Regions from separate parts of the Homo sapiens genome. Here region 2 is linked to region 1. The links come from fine-mapping of genetic effects on gene expression. Tissue or cell type: whole blood. Region 1 holds a variant in brackets; the other region holds the start of a gene. All regions are shown on one strand. Distances are between the middles of the regions.

Region 1 (16,964 bases):
CTAACAGCTTATGCTGAAATTAACCTCGTCTTTGTGAGCCAAAGATCAAATGCGAGACAAAAGCTGGCTAGAGTCATCATTTCCTCAGCTCTGCAATCACCTTACAACTTAAGACCATTTTCACAGTGGAGACAGTTGTTAAAAGTTCTGACAAGCCCTGCGGTAACCTTTGATTACAAAGCCACTCCAGAAAGCCAAGGCTCTTGCTTAGAATTGGTTTGAATTAAAAATGAATCCCATTATTTTCCCCTAGCTCCTCAAAGACGCAGTTCATCACTAATTGTGTTAACTCTGGCCTCTCAAGAAACACACTTATTTGTTAATTCAGCTTAGGAGTGCACATCTCCCTGGACGGTTGCTGATTCTGTGTTCTCTTTGCTTGTGTTTCTCTTTTTTGGGGGGCAATCCTAGCTCACTGAAACCTCTGCCTCCTAGGCTCAAGCAATTCTTGTGCCTCAGCCTCCCAAGTAGCTGGGATTACGGGTGTGCAACACCATGTCCGGCTAATTTTTGTATTTTTAGTAAAGACGGGGTTTCACCATGTTGGCCAGGCTGGTCTCGAACTCCTGGCCTCAAGTGATCTGCTCGCCTCGGCCTCCTAGAGTGCTGGGATTACAGGCGTGAGCACTGCACCCAGCCTGCTTTGCTTATGTTTCTAATAACTGGAAAGAACAACTATGGAAGTTTGAAATACATTTCCAAGGCACAGGCACATTGGAAGCCTGAAAATGGGTTGGGACAATTTAAAATTTTGAATTTCAAATTAAAACATCATAAAGTCGCTACTATTACCACTAAAGTTGGTGCAGATACTGTCTGAATCTACTTCCACTGTGGAAATGACACACAATTACAAGTTTCAAAAGAATGTAGCCACCATGTTAGTTCTGATCTCAGCAGAAGAGGGAAAGGGGACATAAATTGGTTTTGGTGGCACTTCTTTAATGTGGCGAAAATAACAAGCAAAGCATTATTGTTGAGAAGAATGCTTATATCTAGTCAGAAAAAAAGCTCAGCTTGAGATAAATTACTTTTCATGAATTCTATCTTCTTTAGTGTCAGAGATATATTCATTTAAAGAAATTAGAGCATTCACTGTGTGTTACTATGCTCCAGGCATTTATTAGATGTTGTAGGTACTAAAATAAGATACAAACATTGACCTCAAGCTTAGCTTCTATAGGAGGGTCAGATGGAGTAAAACTCAAGAAGTCAGCCATGTACAAAAAAGTACCACACAACGCTTTCCAGAAATTGGGAGGAATGTGATTCTATTACAGAAACATGTGATGCCTATTCTAAAGTATATAGATTCTTGAGTTAAATCTTCATTACCCCCAACCGGAAAATGCTCTACATTTCAGGCCATAATGTGTGTAAGGCGAGCAGCTCTAGTGGAAATGGAAATGCATTAGAGAAAATGTCTAATCCCTGAATCGAGATTCTTGTCAAATATTAGGAGATCAGAGGAAGGCGTTTTTAGAATGTGGATAATCAAAGGTCTTAATGCACTGATTCTTTAGCCTAAGTTAACTAACAAAAGGCAGGCTGATTTCCAGGATCTGCAGTTATATTTAGAAAGACTGTGGCCTCAGAGGGGAACCAAAATAACCCTGAAATAGCTCCCTGCTCTCCTAAGAGGAAAGGGTTACTCTGGCAAGAGAAGGAATTTCTCAGTAAGTTGAAGCAAAGATTTAATTAAAAGACAGTGGCCTATTTTACAAGATTCCTTTGGTGAAGAGATTGGGAAAACTTAGACCAGATGAATTCCTTTCCAGGCCATACAGGCATTGGATAATGATTTAAAATGAATATGAGTCGGGCAGGCCATAACACTTGAGGTTTGTAAAATAAATCTTTCAAATGGGTGGACATAGTGCTTCGAAGTCCAGGATTCATTATAAACACTGATAACCATTGTAGTAAATGAATTTCTAAAATAAAAGACAGAATGTCTTTGTGTTAACCTGTTCATTTAGTCTGAATGATTTTTCCACATTTGGTCTGTTCGCAGAAGATGACCCAAGGTTATTAAGGAATTATTAACATAACTTTATCATCAGCACAAAATGAGATTATTAATACCATGAATAATGATAACCAAAAACACAGCCTCGTATATTTTTGGTGGTGGTGGCAGTGAGCACTGTGTATCCTATTAATCTCTCTATCAAGCCCATGAGACTATCCAATTATTATCCCTGTCTCAAAGATGAGGAAAGAGATTGAGACAGAGTAGGCATTTAGCCCAACTTCACAGAGGCTTTACAAAGCTCAGCCATGGATGGGCTTACCACCAATCAAAGGGAAACACCATGTTGTAGGAAGTATACCCATTGGCGTCTTGGTTTCTATCGCAGAAGACCTAAGTTGCTAAATTCAAATCAGACAAGCTCATTCCCTGGATGTTTTTCAGCTTAGAAGCTGTGTGTCTGCAGACTTAACCCAAACAGAGTCTCCAAATCAACAACTGATGCATGCAAAGTTAAACTAAAAGCCAGTTTGAATGAGTAATAATGTAGAATAAACCAGATAAATAAATACTTTGAAATCACCTTTTCCCAGCAATGAAGTTGTGGCCAACTGCTGAAATAGGAGAAAAATCTCGTGTTTTCTGGAAAAGAAACACAAGAGAAAACAATTTCAAAATTCTGAACTGGATTAAAACTGCAACAATTAAGAGTAAAATGATCATCTTGTTATTTACTTATTTAACATTTGGCCAACAGTAAGCAACTGAAAAAGGCTTATTTAATTAGCTTTTACTGCTTTAATACTATAATAAAAGAATGTTAAAAAGCAAAAGCTAAAACCTGCTCTTAAAACATCCAGACCTAAACATTATCCCTAATTTTATACATGTAGAAAAGTAAAAATGATGGCATTAATTGCATGTAGTAATAAATTATGTCCATACTTCGTTTTAATCATTGCTGCCTTCTAACTCAATCCCACCAATGATAACAGTAACTAGGAGTTATCACCAGCACTGCACCTGCACACCTCAAACACAGACCCCTAGAGCCCATGTGCAATGCACATGGATTAAGCAAAAACAAAATTGGTTGTATGCCTCAAGAAGATGAAAGTCTTTTCAGCACAAAAAAAAAAAGGTGAAACAAAATTGTATAGAGACGTGATAATTGTTATATTTAGCTATATTATTTAATGTCTTCATCTTTAAATATGCTGTATTTTTGTTAACATGGCTTCTTATGCTTAAAAATAAAACTATCACTTATAAAGATCACTTCTCCAAGAATAAGTGTGATTTGAGTTTGAGGAATGTAATCTCAAATCGAAAATTCTGTTTTTGTAGAACTGTGCATCTAAGTAGACATCTGAAAATATGCTAAGTGGAAGTAAAAAGCATGGGTAGTTAAAGAATGAACCTGATAACGAGACTGAATTTTCTCAGGAGAAATATCCACTGGGGGAAACTGGTGCCTCCTCTCCCCTCTTTTCTTTTTTGGTAAAGTTTAAAAGAGAAAAGAAAGAGCTATTTCTTTTCTTTTTTGGTAAAGTTTAAAAGAGAAAAGAAAGAGCTATTTCTTAGAAGAAATGAAAAGCAAAGTAACATTTGAAAGACCAAATAGTCAAGCTGACAATAAGCAAGGTGGTAATTCCTCCATGAGCTCCAGTGTCAGACTCCACAGTGGCCAGCAAGACATGAACACCCAGACTCTTAACCCATGTGGTCTAAGAGCCGCCTGAATATGAGTACCAAGAGAAAAGTGCAGTAGAAGGTGAGAGAAGGTTCCATGCCAAGAGAGGCAGTAGAATGGTAAAGAACCCACTTGCCAAGAGTCCACACACAACGAAGAAAGGCAATGGAAACTCTCTTCTCTTGGCCTTTTGCTGGGAAATCCCACATCCTGGGCTACTAAGCATTATGGCTCAACAACACTGTGGGTGCTGGGAAATTTCCCCACCAGTCTGAAAACCTATCATTTATAAAACCAGGAGGATGCATTTCAAGCTCTAAACAATTGCATTGGGAACAAGTATTTGGGAATAGTACTTGTTCAAAAGTGGAGAAACAATTATTTTGAGAGGCTGCTAGTGGTGTCTAAAACACCACCAAATCTGTTTAATAAACACTTACTGATAAATCTCTGTGCTATATACAAGGGGCACACAAAGGCAAAGATGACAAGGCCCAGTTCAGGAGCCCAAGTTACAAGTAAGTAGCACAATACAGAGAGACGCAAGGGATAAGAGGAGTATGAACAGGTTGTGAATACAGTACAGAAAAGAACAGGATAGTTTGGCTCTGGAGGGCCCCATCCGTGCTTGTTCTCCACAGCCCTTGTGACAAAACCCAAGCCCCTGGCATTGTGACAATTTCCCCATCACAGTGCCCAGCCTGTCCAGTGTCATCTCATCATGCTCACTGCCCTCCTGAGTCCTCCGTGCTTCTGCCACCCTATCTGCTTTAGAGGCTTAACCAGTATAGAAGAGAGAACAGACCAGCGGCACAGGGGCCCACTGAGATGTGTGCTCCTTCAGCTACACTCACCAGCGTAGGTGAAGATGTGGCGTGGGGAGAGAGCTGGGTTATGCAGGGTTGGGGTTCTGCTAGTGAGTATATCTAATAAAGCACTTGTTTTTAAGCTGGAAACTGTAGTGTGCTTGTAAAGAGTCAGTGAATCCTGGCACCTGATAGGTGGGTCCCCCAACTTGTTCCAACCTCCTGTCCCACTGTGTCCTCAGCCAGTCACATCCTTCTCAATTCTCTCCTTCATTTATTTAGAGTCCAATGAGGAAATAACTATAAACACCAATGTAAAATACATGCTCTAAAACAGGGCTTTCAACCCTGGCCTTGCTGACATTTGGGGCTGGAGAATTCTTTGTTTTGAGGGGCTAGCATTTCCTGCCCTGAGTTGTAATAAACAAAAATGTCTCCAGACTTCAACAAATATCCCCTTAGGAGCAAAATCATCCCCATGTTGAAAATCACTGGTCTAAAATGAATGATGACTTATTAAAACACAATAATTTGAGCATAGTGGCTCACACCTATAATCCCAGCTACTTAGGAGGCTGAGGTGAGAGGATTGCTTGAGCCCAGGATTTTGAGGCTGCAGTGATCTATGTTGTGCCACTACACTCCAGCCTGGGCGACAGAGTGAGGGCATCTCTTAAACACAAACACATACTCACATACTCTCATATTTATATCTTAACTTTCATATCATGCAGAAAAACAGTAGTGTGGATGGGGACCATTGGAAAGGGCATAGATGAGGGAGTGGGTGCATGTAAAAAGCACCTGTTGTATTCTCAGCCCTGCATGAGGTCAGTTATCTCATCCAATACGCACAAAACACCCTGTGCTTTTCCCTCTGCATCACAGCTGCTCAAAACCTTGAGAGACAATGATTTAGTGCATGCTGACAATGTTATTAAAAGCAGAACTCCTCAAAATAAAATAAGAAGTATTGCTAGATATGCCTTTCCTTCACTTTCAGTAGACTGAACGCCTGACTCCTTGAGAATGACCAGCACAACATATTTTCATGGCAATCAACTTCATTCTGTGCCATCTTAGGACATTTCCACTGCCAACTTGTCCTGTGGTTGTTTTCATCAGGATTGGCCCACATGGAGTCCTAGGCATAGCCATGATATATCTCTTTTCCTCAAACCACAGCGAATTAGGCATATTTAGCCTGCAGATTTGTAAAATAGAACTGGTTACAGCTCTGCTAGTGTCCCAAGTGAGTATGACAATGCTACGGAGTGCAGAGCAGTGTCGGGTGGTTAAATCCTGACTCACACTACCAACCTCCCTGAGAGCATCAAATGAGACAAGCGACAGGATTCTCAGATGGAATTTGATGTTGGTCCTTTCCCCTCCTGATCCCCAAAGGGCCTGGTGGGCTCAACAATCTCTAGTAAATTCAGCATATTCAGGTCCAAAAGTATCCCTGAACAGGGATCTTCCTTAGCCTTGTCTATTCAAAAAGACCGGGAGTGGCTTTTTAAATACATGTGTGGATATGCAGTTCTTCCTAGTTGGCTTTTTCTGATTCTGTCCAAACACAATCACATCTCCCATGCTAGTATCTATCCAAATACTTTCTTTAAGGAGAATGTCCATATGTCAGCCACTATTCTAGGTGGGGGTTTCGATATTGACCAAGATGAAATTCCCTGTCCTATGTATCTTTCTAGTGGAGGTGGGGAACAAACCCACCATCTAGCAGCATAGCTGTGACAATCACTGAAGAAAACCACAGAGGCACTGTGGAGGTAGGGACTGCCTGGGGAGTGGGCGCTGCTTTGAGTTGGGGAGTCAGGAAAGGCAGCACTGAGAAAATGTTAGCTGAGCACAGACCTGAAGGTGGGGGGGAGGCAGGTCAGAGGGGGCTGGTTCCACTGGCCCCTCCATGTGCCCACCTTGGGCACCCCTCAGAGAGCTACAGCATGCCTGGTGCTTCCACACCCACTGAGGGGAGCACTGGCCAGGTGTGGGCACACGTGCAGACATGTGGGCAGATCCAGGAAAGGCAGCAAGATTATTAGCTGAGAATGAGGATGGAGAGGGAGGTATTTGAGGTTTGAGGACAGGACACAAGAAGATGATCCAGAAAAGCAGAACAATGGACAGAATAGCGGCACAGGGACCCACTGAGACGAAAGTGGGACCTGTGAGCACAGTGATGTGTGTTCCTTCAGCCGCACTCACCAGTGTAGGTGAAGATGTGGCGTGGGGAGAGAGCTGTGTTACGCAGGGTTGGGGTTTTGCCAGTGAGGATCATGAGGGAAGAGGGAGCAGCAAAGAACCTGAGGGTGGATGCAAAAGAATAATTATAACACAAGATCATGGAATCTAAGCTAGATAACTAGGAAAGGAGAACTGGAGGGGGTGACAGACAAGGAAAATTAGCAGGATCACTGGATGGTGAGTACTGGTGGGCCACAAATGGTTGGAGTTAAGGCACAGGGGATAGAAGACAGAAGGTGGTGATCAGAGGATGAAATGGTTGAGGAGAGAGTGGATTAGACACTTGCTACTTAAAGTATGGTCCCAGACCAGCAGTTTCTGCAGTATCTGGGGACTTGCTGAAAATGGCAGAATCTCAGACCCTACCTCAGATCTACTGAATCAGACTCTGCATTCTAATAAGACCCCCAGGTGATTCACACTAAATTTGGGGAAAAACAGCCTTAAACCACTGTCACATCTGCACCATGCTGGCTCAATTTGCAGGCAACCAGAAGCCACAGACACCCTATAAAAAAGGGTGAGTGAATAGCATTCTGAGGTTAGGAAATTCCCTGGGGCTCTGTTTCCCCTTCAAACAGCTCCACTTTAAGTCGCTCATTTTGGTTTCTTGGGTTTCTATCCAGCTGCCTCATGCTCTTGTTCTGCCAGGCCTTGCAGTCTTATGATATGGTTAGCAGGCTTAAAATTCAATTTCCCAAAGAACGCTGCCCCTCCAAATGCTGGTTAGCCTTCCCTCACTGTCTGTAGGCAAAGAGCATCTCCTTACTTCCTGCAACCAGGTACCTATCTCCACTCTCGTTTGCCAGAGAGAAGGCAACCAGATACTTAGTGTCCTCAATTCAGCCTGTGTAATTCCATGTGTCCATATAGATCTATTCCAAGACCCTAATGCAAAATGTATAGTATTGCCATTTGTGGCTTTTTAGAAGTTTAGCTTCCTGCTATATAATAGTCAGGGTTTTGTATCTTCTAGTATGAGTAGACTGACTTGCCTCTTTATAATTTTATAAAAAAGAGAAAACAGTTGTGTATGACATTAGCATGAAAGATGAGGTTGAGTCTAGTTAATGGAGGCTTTGCCTCCTTAAAAGCTTTATTCATAATAAAATGAGTGTGACATTTTCATGAACCCAGACACTACCTCCTGTACAAACACTTGCATGTGAAATAATTAAGAATCTCTAACTTCTTTAAAGACAAGTAATTTCAGATGCTGTCGTGTATGAGTTTTACTATGATTACTAATAATCAAGTACTATTTGCAGACACCATGCTATACATTCCATATATCCTCATCTTACTTAATGCTCACAAGGATTCATACTATTGTTACACTGATCCTACAGATGGGGAAACTGAGGCCTAGAAATGTGAAGTGACACAGCCAGTGAGTGGTGGAGCCAAGTTTCAAACCCAAGTGCACCTGATTCCACAGCAGCTCCTCACGCACACACACAAGATAACACACAGCTGAAGCCCAAGAGCGTGGCACACACAGCTCCCTCCGCTTTCCCGCATCTCTGAGCATACACATAGTCACTACTAAATATTATATGTGCCTACTTGAGTTGAGAAGGTGTAAACAAGGGTCTCTAATCTCACTGTTGGTAAATATCTGATACAGAGACCCTTGCTTAGATGTGACCATTTTCTAGATCTGTGATAATTCTTGTAGCTCTTGCTAAGTTACAATAATCAATGAAATGAGCCATCCTGACATCACTCTGCTAACCTGTGATACAGTTATAACAAACTGGCTTATCACTACAGGTACCTGAACACAATCTCTGTTGGTTGGTGACCTGGCCTCCGGGAACAGAACCTGTTCTGCTTTCAAGAGAAAATGCCAGCAATGACTTCTTATCTGATCCTTTCCCACACCAAGGCAGATCAAGTCCTTAGGTCAGTTCAGCAAATGCAAATGTGTACAGAAGAAACAGAATCAAATCCAAAGCTTCCCATGTGAATTATCACAAGGCTTTGGACATACCAGTTTCCTTCTTGGTATCACCTAACAGCCCATGATTCAGAGATAACAATGTCTAGCTCTGCCTCCTTTGCTTCCCAAGGATGATGTGAGGGTGACTAGATGGGCCTGAGGTCCTTGGGTAGGAGGAGCTGACGCTAATTTAATAAGCCTATGTACACACACAGTGCTGAGAAGCACAAAGTCAAGCCAAGGCACCTGCATATGGTAATTAGGGTTAGGCATTCAGGGCTGATAAAATATTTCTTTTTAAGTCAGTGAGGCCAAAACAAAGCAAACAACAACATTAAAAGTAGCCTCAGAAACTGACCTTCCCATTTCCAACCCCTATCTGCAAAACAGAAAGAGAAATCTCTTACTTTCATGTAAAAATTATAGGGCAACTTCTTTGGTTTCTCAGATTTTGAAAGGAAGACAAGCTGTAAGAAAATAAATATCCTAGGGCCCATGCTAAGTACATACTTTTTAAAAAATTTTAATGTGTTCTATATCTGGATGAACATTTATTACTCAATATTTATTACTGCCTCAATATTTATTACTGTCTCTATACATATTTCTCTGTCTTAGGTTGTCAAGTCTGATAAGGCAAAGACCAAATATACTTTTGTAAAGCATGGGAAGCTGTTATGCATAATTAGGCACTTAAAGAGTTTTTGATGAAGATGATTATGAAGAATGAGAATGGTTAATACCATGGTAGGCATGTTTCATGAAACCTTCCTGTCTTTTCTAAAATGTCAGCTGACTGCACGTTCATAGAATCGTAGAGTTAATGGAAGCTTGAGCTTAGAAATCGTGCAGAGCTTGCTAAACAGTGTGTGATCTGCAGACCAGCAGCATTGGCACCCCCCAGGAGCTCGTTAGAAAGGCAAACCCTGGGCCTCACTCCAGATCTACTGAGTCAGAATCTGCACATTTAACAGGATGTACATTAAAGTCTAAGAGGCACCAACTAGAGAACCATTAAGTTCAACTGCTTCATTTTACAGCTGAGAAAGTTTGGGACCCAGACAGCCTAAGTGATTTGTAAGCCCTTCCACATCCTGACCTGGGATTTGTTGCTCTCTATTCCAACCTTCTACAGCCTCTTCTACTTCAGGAGTACTCCTCCTTGCATTTCTCTTCTGTGGGCCTACAGGAACAAAACTGTAAATAAATAACAACCCACAGATTGCAGGGAACACTGCAATAATGGTAATATTTGTTTGCCTCAGTCTTTATTCTTTTCCTCACTCACATTTGAATACCAATTGTCACCCTCCTAACATATGGTGACTTTTATCGAAAAAACATTAATTTCTTCAGGTGTAAAGAGAATGGCTGTACTTTTGTCCACAACTAAGTTTTTTTTTCGCATTTAGAAATCTGAAAGGAATTTGTTGGATATAAAAGAAAAATGCTGTCTTGAAGAAGATATGCCTTAAAAACAGCAGAGATTAATCAAATCAATAATGCAAGATGTGGAGTAAAGGTTTGAAAATAATATGTAAATTTTGCTGAAAGCAAAATGTTTAGATTGGTTAGAGACAAGGACAGACTGACCTGTGTTCCATCATTTCCTAAATAAACCCTGGGAGAGACCACCCTATCAAAGAGAGCCAGAAGGGAACAGGCTTACTTAAAAGCACTCTCCTTTCCCTCAAGGCATGGTCTTCATAAGAGAACATCATCCCATCATTTGGGATCAAACCCACGTAAATGAAATAGATCAATAAAAATCCATAAACCCAAAAATATTATTTCCGACATGGCCATTGTTATAAATGTACACAGCAAATGTCTTGAGGTACAGAAGTAGGAAAATACACAGAAGGTGTCTGCTACTTTATCTCCTTCAGTGCCAGAGTTTCTGGGTTTGAAGTACTTAGTTGTATGTGACTTCATATACTTGTTTATTGAGGTTAAGTGGGCTTAAATTTTTAATCTGTTTAGTAAAATCAACTGCAAAAGTATTAAAACCTATTACTAAAGACATTTTGTAGACAAATATCTAAAAAGAATTGAGGTCAATCAATTTCATTGTAATTTGAAGGTTTTTCTTCTCTATCCCTTAGTTAAGTAGGAATAAGAACTAAGTCCTTCTTCACCAGGGCAAAATACCTTCCTAACATATTATAAGTCATGAACAGATGTACTTAGAAAAT[G/A]AGAAGATTTGAGTTTAGCACACAGACTGAATCTGAAAAATCATCTAAGGTTGGAAACAAGTTCTCCAAAGAGACACATCTATGTTTCTTTGGAAAAGAGACACATTTTCTTTGGAGAAAACACACATTGACAAGGGTCTCAAATGCAGGCAATCCTTCATCCTTGCTTATTATTCCTTTATCCTTCCTTATTTTCCCTAAATTTCTTCTTAGTCTCCTGACTCCATACACTAAGGGACAGGCTATTTAGATGACACTGTAGGTACCGAATAAAAAGAGCAATTGACAAAAGAAAAATTGTCCAGTGCAGAGATGCTGCTACTTACTGGCTGTTTACACGATGAGGTAAATACTATTATTATTCCCATTTTACACATGAGGAAACTGAAGCATTCAGAGATAACTTATTTGCTCAAGCTTACACAATAGTATGACAGAGTGAGGCAGAAACTAAAAACGCACAATCTGGTTCCAGAGTACAGGCGCTTTATTCAATATTTATTTCATTTTTCACCCCTTCACCCACTTCCTTATCTTCCATCTTGCCTGCAAATGCTAGAGTTTCACCTACAGTGGAATTATAAGCTAAGAAGTCACTGATCTCCTGCTCTGGTGATATCCTTGCCAGGACTCAACCTTTGCAGGCCTCCCCTTCCAGTAACAATAACATAGATTAGCAACCAGAGGTCAGACAGAAAGAGTCTACAGATTCCATCCCAAGCAGCCTTTCCACTCCTTGATTTCCCCCCCTTACTTCCTATCAGCTCAAACACTAATTTCTGCATTGATATAGGAGCCAAACAAGTAGCCACTTCTTCAGGAATCACATGCCCAGCCTGGAAGGTCATCCCAACACCACTCACGCAAACAAGGCAGCCTCCAGTCATCTACTCCTCGACTGGAAAAAAACAAAAACAAAAACACTTCTGACTGTAATATAATTTGCAGGACTATTATCCTCAGACAATATTGAATTACTTAGGAGTTCAGCATCAAACATAATCATTTCACTTCTGGATGTCTACTCTGTAACGAGAATGTGCTAGGCATTACAAAGGCGATCAACAGGAATAACTTATTAACCCTTCCCTCATGGCAAATTCCCCTTCCGTGAAATTCTTTACTTCCATTTCCTACTTGGTCAACTATTTCAGACTGAGCATATGAGACTCAGGAGAGACACTCAGAGTTGGGCCCCTTAAGAGAAAGACCAATAGGGGTGGAGGGGCCTTGAATTGTAGAACTGAAAATACTTCAGTAGAAAGCCAGACACAGAAGAAATACTTATTATTATTATTATTATGCGTATCGCATGCCATGAAGCAAAATCAATTTATTTCATTTATTTATTTATTTTTTTGAGACAGGGTCTCGCTCTGTTGCTCAGGCTGGAGTACAGTGGCACGACCATGGCTCACTATAGCCTCAACCTCCCAGATTCAAGTGATTCTCCCACCTCAGCCTCCTGAGTAGCTGGGACTAAAGGCACATACCCCCATGCCCGGATAATTTTTAAAATTTTTTGTAGAGGTTGAGTTTTGCCATCTTGCCCAGGCTTGTCTCAAACTCCTGGGCTCAAGTGATCCTCCCATCAAGGCCTCCCAAAGTGCTGGGATTACAGGCATGAGCCACTGCACCTGGCACAAAATCAATTTATAAGCACCTCATTGAATCTCCGCAAAACTACTAGAAAGTCTTTACAAAGGAATGTTAAAGCAATTGTAATGACGAACACAGTGACTGCGCAATACTCATAATTTTCTAATTTAAGAAGTATTGAAGGAGATATATTCTAGTTCATGTATGCCTATTTCGTTTTAGTGACTAGCCTTCGTAGATGGACTAGTGATTTCAGCACCTTCAATTCTATGGGGGTCTTAAGTTTAACAACTGCAAATCCACTAATAATGGAGATTTTCAGAAATAGAACTTTAAGTAGTTTATAATCAGGAAGAATACAACCACCCAAATTATTAAGATAAAAGGTAAAACATAAAAGCCATGATTTGGTAGCTAGGTGGGTAGAGGCATTTCCTCTACTGTAAGAAAAACAACAGTGTTGCACAATAAAAACCAGCTGATGGTTGGTTGTGGTCTCTGGGTAAGTAGTGGTAAGGACTGAGGCAAACAACCTCATCTAAAGAGGCTGTAAGAGGCAGTCCCTAAACATCCTATATCTAACTCCTTTGAGAGAATTTGAGAATGTACACCCAGTGTTGGCAGATTTTCTTATTTTTCCTGAGAAGCTAGAAGCCTGGATTTTTACATATCTCACAATGTTTAAATATATACTGCTAATGTAAATTTAAAAAGAATAATCTACTGCCCAGCACTAAGTGAGCAAACAAAATATGCTTGAGGATCAGGTCTGAGGGCCATTTGGAATATGGCTTCTCCCAGGTGGGAGTAGGATGGGATTTTGATAGGAAAAGTCTTGAATTTCAGTCTCACAGCTATGACTCTGTGACCTAGGAAAAGTGCTTAAAACTTCTGAGGTGAGTGTCCTGCTGCGGAAAGATACTTGGATACTAATAGCCTATGCAGATAGGCCAAAGAGTATAGTCAGTAAGAAAGGATGCAGGCTTTGGGACCAGACTGTCCAGTCCAAATGTGGCCTCACTACTCATCAGGGCAAATCATTCCACCTCCCTGCGTCTCAGTGTTCTTCTTTACAATAATGCTGACCTCACACGGTGTTTAGGAGTTAACAAATATTATCTATTTTTTAACATATATGATTGATAAAACAGAATCCCTTGCCTTCCTTCCCAATCTCCAAACAAATTAAAAAAAAAAACAGACTTTAGAAGAGGCAACTTCGTACTAACATCTTTCTGAACTTGGACATGCAAAGTTCTTTATATATGATATAGCATTGTGTTTTCAAATTGATGTAGCTACAAGAAATTTTTAAAAGTTATTTTTTAAATTAAATTTTAAAATTTTAGATAGTTATAGATTCACAAGCAGTTACTTATAATAAAGAGGGATCTCATGTACCCACTGCTCAGTTTCCCTCACTGGTAACTTCTTGCAACACTATATTACAACATTACAACTAAGGTAAACACACTGATAGAAGGAAGATATAGAACATTTCCATCACCAAGTATTACTCATGTTGCCCTTCTGTAGCCCCACCCACTTCCCTCCTGTCCCTACCACATCCTTAACTCCTAGCAATCGTGAATCTCATCTCTATTTGTACGACTTTATCATTTAAAGAATGTTATATAAATGGAGTCATGTTACATGTAGCCATTTGGGATTGGGCTTATTCACACAGCATGGCTCTCTGGAGATGCACACTAGCTGCTGCATATATCAATAGCTCCTTTGTTTTATTGTGGAGTAGTATTCCACGATATGGATGTACCGGTTTGTTCAGCCACTCATCCATTAAAGGATATTTGGGTTATTTCCAGTTTTGACTATTACAAATAAGGTTGCTATAAGCATTAATACACAGGTTTTTGTGAGAATGTGACTTTATTTCTCTGGGATTAAATGCTGAGGAGTGATATTGCTGTATCTCAAAATCCTTGGCCGGGTATGGTGGCTCACGCCTGTAATCCCAGCACTTTGGGAGGCCGAGGCAGGCAGAACACCTGAGGTCAGGAGTTCAAGACCAGCCTGGCCAACACAGCGAAACCCCATCTCTACTAAAAATACAAAAATCAGCCAGGCATGGTGGCACACACCTGTAGTCCCAGCTACTCGGGAGGCTGAGGCATGAGAATTACTTGAACCTAGCAGGCAGAGGTTGCAGTGAGCCGAGACTGTGCCACTGTGCTCCAGCCTGGGCAACAGAGTGAGACTCTGTCTCAAAAAAAAAAAAAAAAAAAAAGAAAAGAAAAAAAAATCCTGAAATTAATTACCTCTGCAAAATCCCTTTTACTACATTAAAAAATAAAAAGAAAAAAGGAACCTGATTCCCTAGTTCTGGGAATCAAGACATGAACATCATTGGCGGGGGAGCCATTATTTGGCCTACTACACTCAACTCCTTGTATCTGTAGGTTTCAGTCTTCTGTTAAATGTGGCAAGTCTTCAGCTATGATTGCTCAAGTACTTTTCCAGCCCCTCCCTCTTCCTATGCTTCTTATGGGTCTCTAATGACACAAATGGTAAATGTCAAGTGTAGTTCCACAGGTCCTTGAGGCTCTCTATTCTATTTTCTCTCTAGTGTTGAGACAAAATAATTTTGATGGTTCTCTCTTTACTGATTCTTTCCCCTGTCCCCTGCATTCTGTTGTCCAGCCCATCCACTGAGATTTTTATTTGGGTTACTGTATTTTTCTGTTCTAAGATGCCCCCTAGGTTCTTCATTATATTTCTTATTTATTTCCTGAGGTTTCTATTTTTTCATTTGCATCCAGCATGTTTAGAATTCCTCAGTGATGCATTTTTATGATGGCTGTTTTAAAATCCTTAGCAGACAATTCTAACATCCCTGTCATTTTGGTGCTGGCCTCTGTTGACTGCTTTTTTTTTTCTTCATTCAGTGTGAGATCTTCCTGGTTTTTGGTATCACAAGTGATTTTTTTTTTCATTGAAACCTGGACATTTTGGGTATTATGTTATGAGACTTTGGATCTTACTTAAACTTTCTATTTTAGTTGCCTTCCTCTGTTACCACTCCCAGAAGGGAATGGGGAGACTGTGTTATTATTGCTGGTTCATCCTGATTACTGGGGTAGAATCAGGTTCCCTACTACACCTCCCCTGATACCTGAGGGGGATGCATTCTTACTGCTAGTTAGGAGTGGGAGTTTTGGCTCTCCATCGGGCCTCCAACAATACTTCCTGGCTGGGAGAAACAGTGTTTCTGGTTCCCACATGATGTCCACTAACACCACCCCAGTTGGAGAGGAAAAGGGCTCCTCATTACTGTTAGGAGTTGGGGAGGGTAGAAACCCAGGTTCCGCATATGGTTTCTACTTACATGGGGTTGAGGTGGAGGCTCTTGTTACTACGCAGCAGAAATAAAAGCCTTGGCTCCCTACTCAGTTTTCTGTGACACTACCCAGTGGCGAGGGCTGGGGTGCCTTGGGACACCCCAGCTCTCAATTTAGAGCTGGCAAGGGTGGAAGTTTAGGCTTCCCTATCAGCTTTTGCTGGTAGGGTGAGGCCACATTTTTTTTTCTGTGGGGCTTGGCTAGAGTACAACAGTTATTATCTAAAAGTTTTCCATTTTGCTAGGCTCTACCTTTTCTAGTCCTCTGGTTTCAGAAAACAGATTTTCATCTTTTACTTATTTGTTTTTGTATGTGCCTGTTGGTGTTTTCCACTTGCTGCCTTCTTCATCAGGAATATATGGGATCTCAGTCAGGTGTGGTGGCTTACACCTATGATCCCAGCACTTTGGGAGGCTGAGGCGGGTAGATCACTTGAGGTCAGGAGTTCAAGATCAGCCTGGCCAACATGGTGAAACCCCATCTCTACTGAAAATATAAAAATTAGCCAGGCGTGGTGGTGCATGCCTGTAATCCCAGCTACTTGGGAGGCCGAGGCAGGAGAATCACTTGAACCTGGGAGGTGGAGGTTGTAGTGAGCCAAGATGGCACCACTGCACTCCAGCATGGGCAACAGAGCGAGACTCCATCTTAGAAAAAAAAAAAAGGGAATATGTGAGCTCTGGGAAATACGACTCAAAAAGAAGAAAAGCCAGGTAACTCACTATTGTGTGTTGCTTGGGTTTTGAGGTCTATAGATATTCTGCCATCTTTCCTCTACCTTTCAGAGTCTTCTTACGTTTGTTTTATGAACAATGTCTAGGAATTTTAGTTGTACTTAGTGGGAAGAACAGGGAAAAGTATGTCTACTCCATGTTCCTGGAAATAGAACAAATTTTTCATTTCATTTTGAGGTTAAAAATTAGAAACCTCATTAAGTAAGGACATTGCATTTGCTATGCTGAAAAGGCTGCATCCAATAGTAGCAAAAGTTTACATAAAATCAATTTAAATACTTTCAAAATACTTTAAGAAAAACTTCAAAACCATGTATTTAACCCTTAAGAAAATCAATTTTAAAATAATATATTTTAAAGTTCTCAAAAGGTACCCAAATGATGTTAGTTAACTTTTTGTTT
Region 2 (13,056 bases), 38 kb after region 1:
CAAGCCCAAAGTGAAGAAAATTCAAAACAGTACATATGACTGTCAATGGTCTTCATTCATTTATATCCATATTAAAATTAGTTTGCATTTCTTTTACATGTATCTTTTGATGGATGTCAGAAGAAAATTATTCAGAGATTTAAAAGTGACACAGATAAGCCACTAAATAGATAACAGATAACATAGATGAGAAATGAAACAACTATATGTATATTCTGAGGAGTTAGTTAATAATAAATCATGAACCTCATTCAAGTCACAAAAGTGATCAGGGGAGACTTTTACTATAGAATAACCAACCCAGAGCAGGGGAACACTTGAAATTAACTATTAAGTAAGCAAAAGGGAATATCTGTTCTCTGAAAAGGAGGGTTCAAGTTGAAACAGAAGATAATTCAGAGATGTGAGATGACTCAGTCAATGGCAGGGGCTCTTTTGGGCACTTTGCAACTATGGTATTGTGTCCCCAGGCACATGGAGGCAGCCTACAGGAAGAGTAGAACTCTCGAAGAGTTTTGATTTTTTTTTTAAAGCCAACTTTGAGCATTTATATTGAAGCACCATTCAGTGTTAGCATACATTAGCTAAGAGATTTCATTAAACATTAAATCAGTCTGTGATTTAAATTAAATCAGACTGTGAGCAGTCTGTGGTCTATGTGCCCTATACGGCAATTAGATTTTAATCTCTAGAAATAAGACTTACAAAAGGCGAGAACACTATCTAGTATTTGGGTGATAACCTAACACAGCCACAAAAATGCCATGACCTCTCAATCATTCCCCACCTCTGGAACCCAGCTGAGAAGTCTAACAAGCTATGGAAACCTTAAAGGAAGTACTGCTCACACAGCACCCCGGAATCTGCTTCCCATGACATGGGGTACTAAGGCTTGAAGGAAGCATGCTTATTTAATGGTAAGTATAAATTATTTCTTTTTCTGAACATGCAGTTTAATATGAGGCAAAGTGCAAGGCCTCTCTCTGCCCAAGGGAGTTCTCCAGCTGGGACTGAATGCATATCCAGGGATGACGCTGTTTGTGGATTGATTACTGCTGCCGTGGTGGTTTCCTTGACTGTGTAGATTGCTGCAGCTACACGTGCAGGCAGGAAACCAAATGGAGACCACCACCCTCCAGTGTAAACTCTAACATCACACCAATTTTTCTTTTTTGACTCTCTGAATGCATGAATAGAAAAATAATAAAGCAACAGAATCCACTTCAAATTGAAAGACCTGGCACCTCTACCACACATTAGGAGGTATGGAAGCATGGGCAAGTTATTTAACAATAATTATGATCATTTCTGTTGTGGGTGCTGTTAAGCACTTTGCATACTTTAATCCTTAAGCTTAGATTTCTTCATGTATAAATTGAGGATAATAATGCAACTACTTCATTTGCAAGTTGAGGCAGCAGGGTCAAAAAGAACACAGTTTCAACACAGACAGACGTGGGTTAAATGCCAGCTCCAATTTCTACTATTTGATCTCACTGAGCTCCCATTTTCTCATCTCTAAAGTAGAGATGAAGCCACTTACCTCAAAGGACTGTGGTGGGGAATTGAGCAAGACAGTGTTAAATACCAGTTGGTGTCTGTATCGCTAGACAGTGCACAATAAATGTTTATACCTTCTCTCCTATTATACACATGAACTGCTTCTGTTAATATTCATCAGCAGCAATTCAATGTCCATAGCAGCAATTCAATGTCCATAGAGTCCAAAGATGCATTTCCTTTCATAACAATGAAAATTTTTCCCAGAACAAGCTTAATATGCCAGATACTGGCCCAACAGCTCTATGTCTATGAACTCATTTAATTCTCACTACTGTTCAGTGGGGTAGGTACTACTACTGTCATCCCCATTGTACAGATGAAGACACTGAGGCACAGACTTTGGGTTACTTGCCTAGATTCAAACAGATGGTACCAGAGCTGGCAGCCTGGCTCCATAGCCTGTCCTCCTAACCAGGCTGCAATAGGGCTTAATGGGTCAATCTGTTTGAGATTCCATGCTTGGATGTAATCTCTTCTAGAGATAAGCACTGGATGCTCTCACAAACCGCAATGTGTTGATGTGACTAACTTTTCAACTTCTGAAATAACATTTTGTGTATTTTCTTAGTATTCCTAAAAAAAAACCCTTTACACTTTAAATAAGGTGCCTATAACTAGTTCATCTTGTTCTGCATGCTGAAATACCATAAATAAATGCACTTCTCTCTTCAAAGATTATGTAAATAAATCTTACATTAAAACATACCCCTGAGCTTTGGTTTAAACAATAATTTCAAGTCCAAATTAAACATTTATGTATGTGTATATATATTTAGCAGGAAAGTCTTAATATGACCTATTTTGTTAAACTAATGACATCTATACCCAATACTCCAAATATTCCTCTTATTTATAATATTCGCTGTGTAACAGTCACACAGCAGTACTGCATGGTACTTCAAAGTACTATTCCTTTTACAAGTTTAACCAACTCAGGTATTAAACATCAATGATGATAATCCATAGCTCTGCTTAAAAGGAATCTCTCGGGAACAGCTGAGAAAGAAAGGTTAAAGATTTCTATCCTTCAAAGTAGGGCACTGCAGCTACCTATAAATCATGCTCTTTGTTTATTAAGATAATTAGGCCCATCAGTACACTTAACTTTTAGACTCAACAATTGTCTGGCATGAACAATTTCCACTTTTTCTAAAACAAAGGGGATGTGTTCAAAAAGCGGTCCTCTGCATGCTCTCTGCACAATGCATGCTATTTTAAAACATGATTTATGGGTCTAATTCCTGGAGCTGCCTTGAAAAATATAGTGGGTTGTTCCTCCCATGCTCCCTATTAGGAGAAGACACTCCAATTTGAAGAGTGCACTCTGTTTCAGACTTCAGGCCGCTATATCATGTCAGCATTTTCAGTAAATACTGTTCAATTGGACTTTAAACAAATGGAATGGAGGGCCACAGCTGCAGCCACTGCAGAGATAAAGTTATCCAGCCGGGAGGCTTACATAAGAGGTGCAGGACAATCAGGGTGAAATCCAAGTGTCATTATCTGAATCCTATTTCTTGAGACTTGCCTACATTCTTAAAGTGTATGAATTCACACGCCCAGAGCTCGTTTTATTTGCCTTAGGGCATAAAACACCGGGTCGACATATAAGTTGTTTTTTCCCTAAAGGACTAGGCTCCAATTATGAAAAGGTTGGCAACTTCTGCCTAGGGGAAGAGTAAAGCGGGATGCGCGGGAAGCCTGCAGGCCTGAAAGAAATGGCTCGCCCAAAGATCCATCGCAGTGCTGGCCACACTCCCCAGAGGAATTAGGATGGAGGTGACAAGACCCTGCCCAGCCCCTTCACCCCAACGTAAACACAGAGTCAAGGAGCTTGGAATGAATAATTAGCACGCAGCAGTCGAAATGCCCTAGGAGTACCTGTCCTCTCCCAGCATATTTCCAACTGGCACATTCGTGAGATGCTGAGGTCAGCCAGCCCTGGACTCCAGACCTTCCAGCTGCCTTGTCCCCTTCTTGGCACCCCGCACTCCCTCCTCGAGCTGGAACTCTGTTAACAAGAGGTGCCACCCTCGGCTTCCCACAAGAAGATAAAAACGAACCTCTCCTTCCCACGGCTCCCTCCAACTTCAGAAACTACAGTCAACTTACTGGGACTCAGGAGGCAGGGAGTCTTCCTGGCGGACGGCGCTCGGAGGCAGCCTCTGCAAACTCCGGCGCGCAGCGCCGCCGCCCCGGCACAGCCCGGCAGCAGCGGCAAGTGCAGGACCAGGCGCCGCCGCTCTGCACCAGTCGCCTTGGCTCAGCTGTGCCGGGCGCCGGGCATTCGCCAGGGCACACGACTCAGCGAGGCGGCGGCTGGGACTGAGGCTACTGCACCCGGCCGCGCGGACCCGAGCGCTGCAGCTGCCTCCAGCCCCGGAGCGCGGCGCTCCGAGCCCCTGGTGGGTGTCTCTGGCTCCAAGGGAATCACGGCTCAATTAGGGACCTGCCAGGAGAAAAACCGATGCGCTGCCGCAGGCAGAGCCGCCAGCCCGCCCCCAGTCGGCTGGTCACATCGCGGGCGCGCAGACGGACAAGCGAGCGGGAGGGTACCGCAGCCAGCACTCGCCGCCGCGCCGCGGAGAATGACAGGCGCCGAGGCGGAGCAGCCGCGCGGGGAGCGGGGCGCGAGTGCGCATGATCCTGGCCGCAGCGGCACGTCACGGGGGAGGAGGGGCGGGCCGCGGGGCGGGAGGGGGCGAGCCGGGCGGGGCCGGGCTGGGGGTGCACACGGGTGAGGACCGGCGCGGGGCCTGGCTTGCTCGCGGGAGGATGCAGGAAGTCTTCCCTGCCCTGATTTTATGAACCCAAAGCTCTGTGGTTGAACTTGTCCCAGGAGCCCATTGTCCTTTAAACAGCACCGTTTAAGCGGTCCTTAAGGTCCCTGGGGAGCCCACAAAAGCCAATTTAATTCAGGTTACAGCTTAACCGTAAAGGGTTGCCATTTGGGGGACAGTGATCTTCTATTGTGGCTGTGCATTAAAATAACTTGGGGAGCTTGTAAGAACCCTTTGCCCCGGACGCATCCCAGAACAAGTACAGGACAATGTCTGGGTGGGGCCCACCCAGGTATCAGTAGGTATCTAAAGATACCAAGGTACAGCAGTGCTTCTCAAACCCTCAGTGTGTGACAGAATCTCCTGCGGATTGTGATGAGATGCAAGATTCAGATTCAGTAGGCCTGGGATAATGAGGGAGACATCCTTTCTAACAAGCTCTCGGAGGATGCCAATACTGGAGGTCCAGACCCCCATCCTTGCTACTTAACGTGTGATCTAGAGCCTGGAGCAGAGCTTCTGAAACAGTTGGCCTGTCTGACAGTCACCCGAGGGGCTTATAAAAAACGCAGAACAAATGCCCAGGCCGTACCCCCAGTGATAGTGGTTCTGGCTCAGCCCCTGGCAAAGGTGGGCTTCTAGAATTCCATTTGGCATCAACACTCTAAATAAATCTGATAGGGGTTTTGTTTGGGCCAAACTTCAAGTTTACACTAGCAACCTGGAATTGGGAATAAACTTTTGCACTTACAAGGAGACAAACCAAGTCTAGAACTCAGGACATCTGACTTTGAGTCAGGGATTCTAAACCAACGGGTGCTTTATCTGACTAGTCCCAATTTTCTAAAATTATGATGCATTACTTAGCAAGAAAAAACATATAAATGGCATTAAATATACACACACACACTCTATTGAACACTCGTTACACATATCATTAATGGGAGCTTAAAGGTGGCTGGGGAAGAAGGCTCATCAGGAGAGGGTAAGGAAGACAGTGATGGAGTAAGGGATGTTGTTAGTGTGTCGCAGAGGGAAGGGTATGTGGGAGGAAACAGTTTAGACTCAGCCTACAGCTTGGAAAAGCCCATTGGGGAAGCGGACCCAGGAACCAGACTTGGCCTCTTGCTTCAGAGCATGGTATGAAACTCAGGTGTTTAAGAACTTATGGAGTATAACATTTCACATACGTTACCTCACTGAAATTTCACAGTGGTCTCTTAAGTTGAATAATAATATAAAAAAGTATCCCCATTTTATATATTAAAGAAGACATCCTGGACATGAGTTGACTAATGGTGGAACTTGAATAAAAGTAGGGATCTCCGTGTTGGACTTGGCTTCTACAACTCTGGAGAAGAGGACAATTTAGACCTTATAAAGCAAATGGTTTCTGTGTTTACTAGTCACATCTTTTACAGGCTGTGCCTAAATTTGGAGTTAGGAAGGCTTTCATTCTTGTGGGGAGGAAATACATTTTGTGTCTTCCAGTTTTGCTACACTTGTTAGGATACACTTAGAACAAAATGTTCTAAGAGCAACCCGGTCCTAGGACATTGCAGTTCCACAGTGCAGGCTTCATTGAGGAGTTTGAAGGGCAATATTCACGTTATCTGGTGACAAGTGTAATTACCATCCTCATTTTACCCAGGCTCAGAAGCTAAGTGATTTAGACAAATTCACGAATGCAGGCAGGAGCCAATCTCTAGCCTCTGTCCTTTTCCTCTGCTCTCTTTTCACCAAGTAACATGCTGAGGATTGTTTTTCATTTCCAAATTTTTCATATCAGGATTTGCCATCAGTAAATTGGAACTCAAATGTATTTCAAAGCCACTCCTAGATAGAGAACCAAAAGTGTCAGGATCAATTCTTGTGCTTGTGGTAGATGCTATGGGCTATACTCTCGGTCTGAGTAATGTTTTGGAAGCAAGTATGTGATAGTTATATACAGTCTTCTAATCCAGAGGTTTGACTGGGAATGCTACACTGCCAACTGTGGTCTACCTGCCTTTATCTTTACTTCTTATCTAACTCTTCCATTACAGCCATTCTTCGGTGTGATTATGAAATTAATTCCTAAGAAAAAAGAATTCTTTGAAGGAGCTGGTACATCACAGGTTGTAAAACTTACTTCAGTTTTTAATAAGAAATATATATATATTTTAAATATGAAGGTAGCAGAATAGTCATGTTGGGACCTTTAGAAGAACCCAAAGTTGTCATTGTTTTCTTAGGTGCCCGACATTTCAATCAAAATATTTACATAATTCATTTGTATATTGATTTCAAGAGATCCAAGATTTAATTAAATAAAAAGTTACTATTAATTGGTGTGTCCTACTGCTATTGAATTTTGAACCATTGTTATTGGCATTAAATACATGAAATATATAATATTGTCTTGATACTATATTGACTGTGCTTTAATATTGACTGTGTCTTGATATTGACTGTGTCTGTATTTAGAATTTATTTCACATCAGCTGCTATTGATTGTCTGGCAGAAATCGCAGCTACATCTTTTTCTCTGAGGTCTGTATTCCTTATGGGTCAGCAAGGCCTACTCTTTGGCTGAGAATTCCTTCCTTCAATGCCTCTAAAAGTCCTAGTAGTGAGATATTCAATTATATAGACACTAATGACTCCACTGAAACTATTCTTCCCTCATGCAGAAACTGTACCTAGGATAGATTTTTATTAAAGTCTTTCTGCTAAAAATCACAGGCTTACCAACTGAGCTGGAAAGCTTAGGCTCAAAAATTCTCCACCTTTATTAATTACATTTCTTCATCCATTTCACTCAAAGGGATTCTTTGACATGAAAATCTTCACTTACTTCATAGACACAGTCCAGATAAGAGAACTGTGGGGAGTCCAAGGTGACTAGCAAGAGTGAGACAGTTGGGAGGAAGGAATTAGATGCCACTTGGTGAAAAATAAGCTTGCCATAAAAATTAATACAAGTTGTGCTTGATTTGTGGACATGGCTTATTACAAAGTTTGCCTTGTTTGAACACATGCAGCAGCTGATAACTTCACTGGAAACCATCACTGAATCCCTGGTGTAGATGGGATTGGGGGAGATTAGGGTCCTGTCTTCTTTCCCGAGAAACTTTAGAAAAGTATTAGAAAGCCCAATTCTTGCCCTAATGCAGGAAACTTACGACGTGCCTGCATTGTAAATGTTCATGTCTAAGTTATCTCACTTACAATTTAGAGCAGTCAATATAATAAATAATCAGGATTTTCAGGCTAGCTCCATAATGTTTTTTAAGTCTCTATTAACAACAAAAAAAGCTAATAGAGTGTTAATTATAACCCTGAACCTGAGAAGAAATAGGTGATGGGTAGGGATGTTGGGCTAAGGCAGGAATGGGGTCGGGGGCTGGGACAGGATGGAATTTAGGGATGGAAGAAGGAAGGCAGGAAGTGGCCTTTGGTTGCTGAGGAGCAAAGGCTGGTGGAGACTGAGTATCAGCAGCTTCTGAGATAAGACTGGGCAATGGCCTGTGAGCAAGATTAGAGAGCAAGCAATCAAGACTCTGCTGGCAACTCACAGCTTACCTGAACTTAAAGTGCTGAGGATTCCACGTGTGACTTTGTCTATAGGAAAGAGGGATCAGAGGTTAAGAAATAGATTATAAATTCCTTAAAACCCATGATAGATGCTTTAAAGAACTACTACAAAATATACCCTCAATTTCAATCTCTAAGAGTTACTTTTTCCTCCCTCCCAACCAAATTGCCCACTAATAAAAGGAGAGAGCAGCTGGGGGAGAGGCCATGCTGCACAGTGCGAACCTCACAGGCTGTCTGGCCCCCACTCCCAGCATCTCCATCCATCAGCTGTAATCACGTGACTGCCATCTTTGATTACCTAATACACAGTAACAAGAGCTTCAAGCACATATTAGGTTCCGAATATGCTAGCTATTAGTGGTGGGCTTTACAAAATCTCTCCTAGAGTTAAAATCTGAAACTAGACATCTCTTAGTGTCTATTTTATCATTTTAATGTAAACCATGATGAACTGTAGTTTTTAAGAGAGTACTTTCCTTCTCCATCAGAAGACTTAAGAGTGACTTTAGGGCTCCTCTGAGGACAGGAGAATCGTGTAGAAAAGGCTTTCAAGGGAGATCAGGGCAAAACCTACTAATGTAGCTCTGCAGCCTCACACTATACTGTAGAGGAAAAGTCAAGGCTTAAGGACTTGACATTTTCATATCTTTCTACCGGGAGAAAGAAATTATGGTGGCAAGAGACAGTAGCTATAAAAGTGAAAATAGAGTGCTTTAAAGAAATGCCTTTATATTACAGATTTGAGAATGGACATTTCCATTGTCCTTTGTCATCCTGACCTTACACATTCCTTAAAGTTCTATCCTGACATCAACACTCAAGATGTGTGCCTGTAAAACTGATGTAGATACTCAGAATGTTGGTAGAGATTCCTTAAGCTCACTTTTAATTCTTCTGCCTTTATCACTTCAATATAATACAATTTTTATAAACATATTTTAAGCAGGCATCAGAGAAAACTGCGTGTTTCCTTAGTAGCCAACCAGTTGCCTGCCAGCAAGCAAAACTTCAGCATTGAGAAAGGAAGATTTTGAAATTCAATTCCAAAAGAAGTGAGTTGTGCCATCTCCAACATTAGAAATATGTGAAAGACTTATAGTGGCTAAAGCATTTCTGTCATTTCTTGCCTTTATACATCTTCCTCCAGTCCCGCCCTCTCAACACCTTTTCAGCAAATAGACTTTTCTGCTCTCAGTCTTGTACTCTCCCTAAAATGGAAGCTGTCTCTTGTTATATAGCTACAACAGATGACAGGAAGAGGAAATTCAGCAGAAAGTGGCTTTCTCTGTGAGCCACAAGCCCATTAAAAGTGGAAGATTATTCTTTGTTTACATGGCTTTCTTCTTCAGTTTGCATAAGGTTCCTTATCTGAAAAATGGGGATAATAGTATCAGAAAATAGTATCAGTATCCACAAAATAACATAATTATTTTCTGAAAGAATCAGCCATTTACCTATTCCTACTTCCCTCTGAAGAGCATTCAGTTTCTGCTGAATTCTCTTCTTTTGTTCTCTACTCCCAAAGAAGAGAACACCTTCTAGAGAGGGTTGATGGTCAATGCTAGTGAGTGCTAGTGAGAATGCAGGCTCCCCAGAGTTTTCATACACTTGGCAATGGTCAAACCTGTGGTTCTGAACAGGTAACAAAAACTGGTGCTTGAGATGTTACTTGTGTGGCTGGTGGTCAGACCCTCAGCAGAGTCTGAAACAAATTCTTTGGGGGATGAATAAAAGCACAATTGCAGTCTGATAAAAAGTCAAGGGACCCTGGAGATTTCACAGCAATTCAGAGAGAAAAAAGAATTTCCAGAGGTAAAAGCCATAAAATAAGCGATCACTCCAAAAGGTCTTGTAAAAACAGCAGTTGCTTTTAGAAATATTTAATCCCAAATTCCACTGAAGTGCACGTGGTATTTCCTGTTTCTGAAAACTTAGAGGAAAATTAAACTCTTCTTTGAAAAAAAGCAAGCAGAGCCAGATGTTGGCGTTGGTAATGATCTGCAGAGCCTAACACACATGTGGCGGCAGTCAGGGAAATGCATGACAGCTGTCTGAAGCCATGGGAACCTGATTTCTCTTGGCTAGAAAAGAAACAAAGAGTAAGGGTTGTTTTGTTTATATATACAAGGGGACAGCTGAGTCCAACAGACATTATTTTGAGCTGTAGAGCCAGAAACAGCAGTTTAAAATATTTTATCTTTCCCTTTGACACACTCAGTCCAAATAATTTATTCAAGGAATGTTCAGTATCCAATCAGATACAGTGACATTCTAAAGTATTTTTTTCAGAAAATGCTAGACTATACCGTTTTGAGCCCAATTATAGGCAATCTCATAGTAGCTTGCTTTGTTCATATTAATAATCAGAATTTTTTTCTGAAAATACATGACTGGACTTCTTGATTAAAAGAGCCTTTGGGTATACAGGAATGATTACCATCGGCTTTATCTTTCACTACACCCCATCCTGAATCTTCTTCTCTGGTCAAACTGTTTTACTATTCCAAGATTCATTTCCCTTTGTCCTTTCTTGCTTTTGTTTTACTGCTGTTTTTTTATTCAAATCCTCCTCTCCCATCTCTGTCCTTCAAAATACTGCCCATTCAGGTGCCTAATTCATACCTCACCACATCTGTGAAGTTGATCTTGATCATCCTAGCTGGAAGAGTGTCTCCTCCTGGGAACATCTGTAACACCTACTGTCTGGATCATCCACATGGCACTTCTCCTAAACTGCTTTGAATTAAGGACATCAGTGTATGTATTGCTGTTCAATGAAACAGCAAGCTCCCAAAGGCAGGCATTAAGTTTTAAACTTCTTTGTATCTTCTCTCCTTCTCCCGCTCCTTAACTCTCTAGTTATTTTGTACGTGATCACAAGGGTTCTATTCATGTCCATGCTTATGACGTTGATTGTGAGCATGTTGACTGGAGAGAGAGGTGTAGGTTTGTGGAGGAAGACAGATAACTAACATCCAAAGAGTGATTCAGCACCTAATCCCATTTGGATTGCAGCATTGGGCAGATTATCAAAGCTTATCTAGTTATATATTAAATACTTATTGCATCTGAGTTACAGGGTGAAGGCTTGATCCCAAGAACAAAAATTGAATTCTAATTACTACAATAGAAGCATGAGGTGTGAACCAGATTATTTATATTAATATTTAATTTATATTGAATTCTGGGCTATGGATTCTTCAGTATCCACCTCCCACTGACAAGGGACAGGATTGAACCTGGAGCCTGGAGAAAGACTGAGTCTATTGTTGGAGGAAAGGTGATCATCTATGAAAGCAGAGATGATAGGGGAGCAGAAAGCCAGGCAGGACATTTTTCTTCCTACAATGCCTTTCATAGCAGGTTGTTTGACATGAGAAGTGTCATGTCAGTCATTGTGTTTACCCATCTCTGTGCCACTAGCTTCCTCTGAAATATGGACTAGAGAATATGGAATGGACTGAACAGTCTAGGGAGGAAAATGGGACAGATACACAGGGAGAGGCAGAGATCCAATGGAAGACAGACAGAGCATTCCAGCCAACGTAATGCTTTTCCAGACCCTTCATATCCTTAAGTAAATTTTCCTTTTCATTGCCTGATCCTTGTAAGACAAAAAAATCTAACATACTGCTCAATGAATGTTTATAGAACAAATGACTAGAAATGAGGTGTTAATATTATTAAGAATTGATAAAGCAATATTCATATTCATTTGTGATAAAATAAAGAACATATCTGGCTTTTGTCTCTGGTTCCTAGCAGAGTTTCAAAACTCCTAGTATTTCCAGAGTGATAAGAATGTCTTTTGTTATTCATAATTAACCTCCTTGGACTGTACCTGAGTTTGTGATAATGAATGGGGGAAACCAACCATGTGATTAGAAGGTTGGAACTTTCAGACCCTGCCCCCAACCTTTGGAGAAGGAGTGAGACTGGAGATTAAGTTCAATCACAGGGCCAATTATTTAATCAGTTATACCTACACAATAAAATTCTGACAAAAAATTCAGGACATGGAGATTTAGGAAGCTTCCTGTTTGGTGAAGATGTTGCTGTACTGGGAGGGTGATGTGTCCTCCTGGCTCCACAGAGACAGAAGCTCCTGCACTCAGTGCCTTTCTAGACCTTGTTATCTGTATCACTTCATCTGGCTGCTCATTTGTATCCTTTCTAATAAAACAGTAATCATAAGGATAGTGCTTTCCCAAATTCCATGAGTTCTTCTAGTGAATTATTGAAACTGAAGAGGGGTCATAGGAAAATCCCCAAAATTGTAGCCATGTCAGACAGAATTGCAGGTAGTTTGGGGACCCTGCTTGTAACTGGTGTCTGAACTAAGAATAGTCTCATTAGGAACCTTGCTCTTTAACTTGTGGGAGCTGACTCTCACTCCGGGTAGTTAGTGTCAGAATTGAATTGAATCGTAGGACATCTAGTTGGTGTGAGCGACTTGATGTTGGAACACAAGATTACATTCTTTGTGCATTTAAAAATACACCATGTTTTTGTGACATCTATTTACAGTGTTGATTAACACAGAGCAGAAATGGCATCAACATCTCAAGATGAAGAAGAGAGCAATTATATCAGGTGACTATGTCCGTATCAGTCAATCTGCACATGTAGGTTGATGGTCAATGTACTAATCAACAAATTTCAATATATGTACCCCTTCTTTCCTGCTGGACTGCAGGCTTCTGGGAGTCAAGCTTACATATCCTACGTCTTTTTTTTTTTGTGATGGAGTCTCGCTCTGTCGCCCAGGCTGCAGTGCAGTGGCACGATCTCTGCTCACTGCAGGCTCCGCCCCTCGGGTTTACACCATTCTCCTGCCTCAGCCTCCCGAGTAGCTGGGACTACAGGGGCCTGCCACCTCGCCCAGCTAATTTTTTTTGTATTTTTAGTAGAGACAGGGTTTCACCGTGTTAGCCAAGATGGTCTCGATCTCCTGACCTCGTGATCTGCCCACCTTGGCCTCCCACAGTGCTGGGATTACAGGCGTGAGCCACCGCACCCGGCCTCCTACATCTTTTTATTTCAATCTATGCCTTATGAATTGTCTTCAAAATCCTAAGTACTACTGAATGCTTTATGGTTGATATGCTGATATGCAAATAAATACTTATTAATT

What was found.
Region 2: PAG1 starts here. The variant in region 1 is fine-mapped to the expression of PAG1 in whole blood (TOPMed, PIP above 0.99).

What each region holds. Positions count from the first base shown.
Region 1 is chr8:81,067,557-81,084,520 of GRCh38, forward strand. It overlaps PAG1 (phosphoprotein membrane anchor with glycosphingolipid microdomains 1), which reads right to left. Exons shown (of 9, transcript NM_018440.4): 2 at 2,556-2,614. Among named protein-coding and RNA genes, the nearest start is that of PAG1, 36 kb to the right of the region's middle. The variant G/A (reference allele first, on the strand shown) is at 10,871.
Region 2 is chr8:81,107,916-81,120,971 of GRCh38, forward strand. PAG1 (phosphoprotein membrane anchor with glycosphingolipid microdomains 1) reads right to left here and starts at 4,153. Exons shown (of 9, transcript NM_018440.4): 1 at 3,676-4,153. RefSeq lists an enhancer at 3,599-3,668 and a silencer at 4,159-4,288.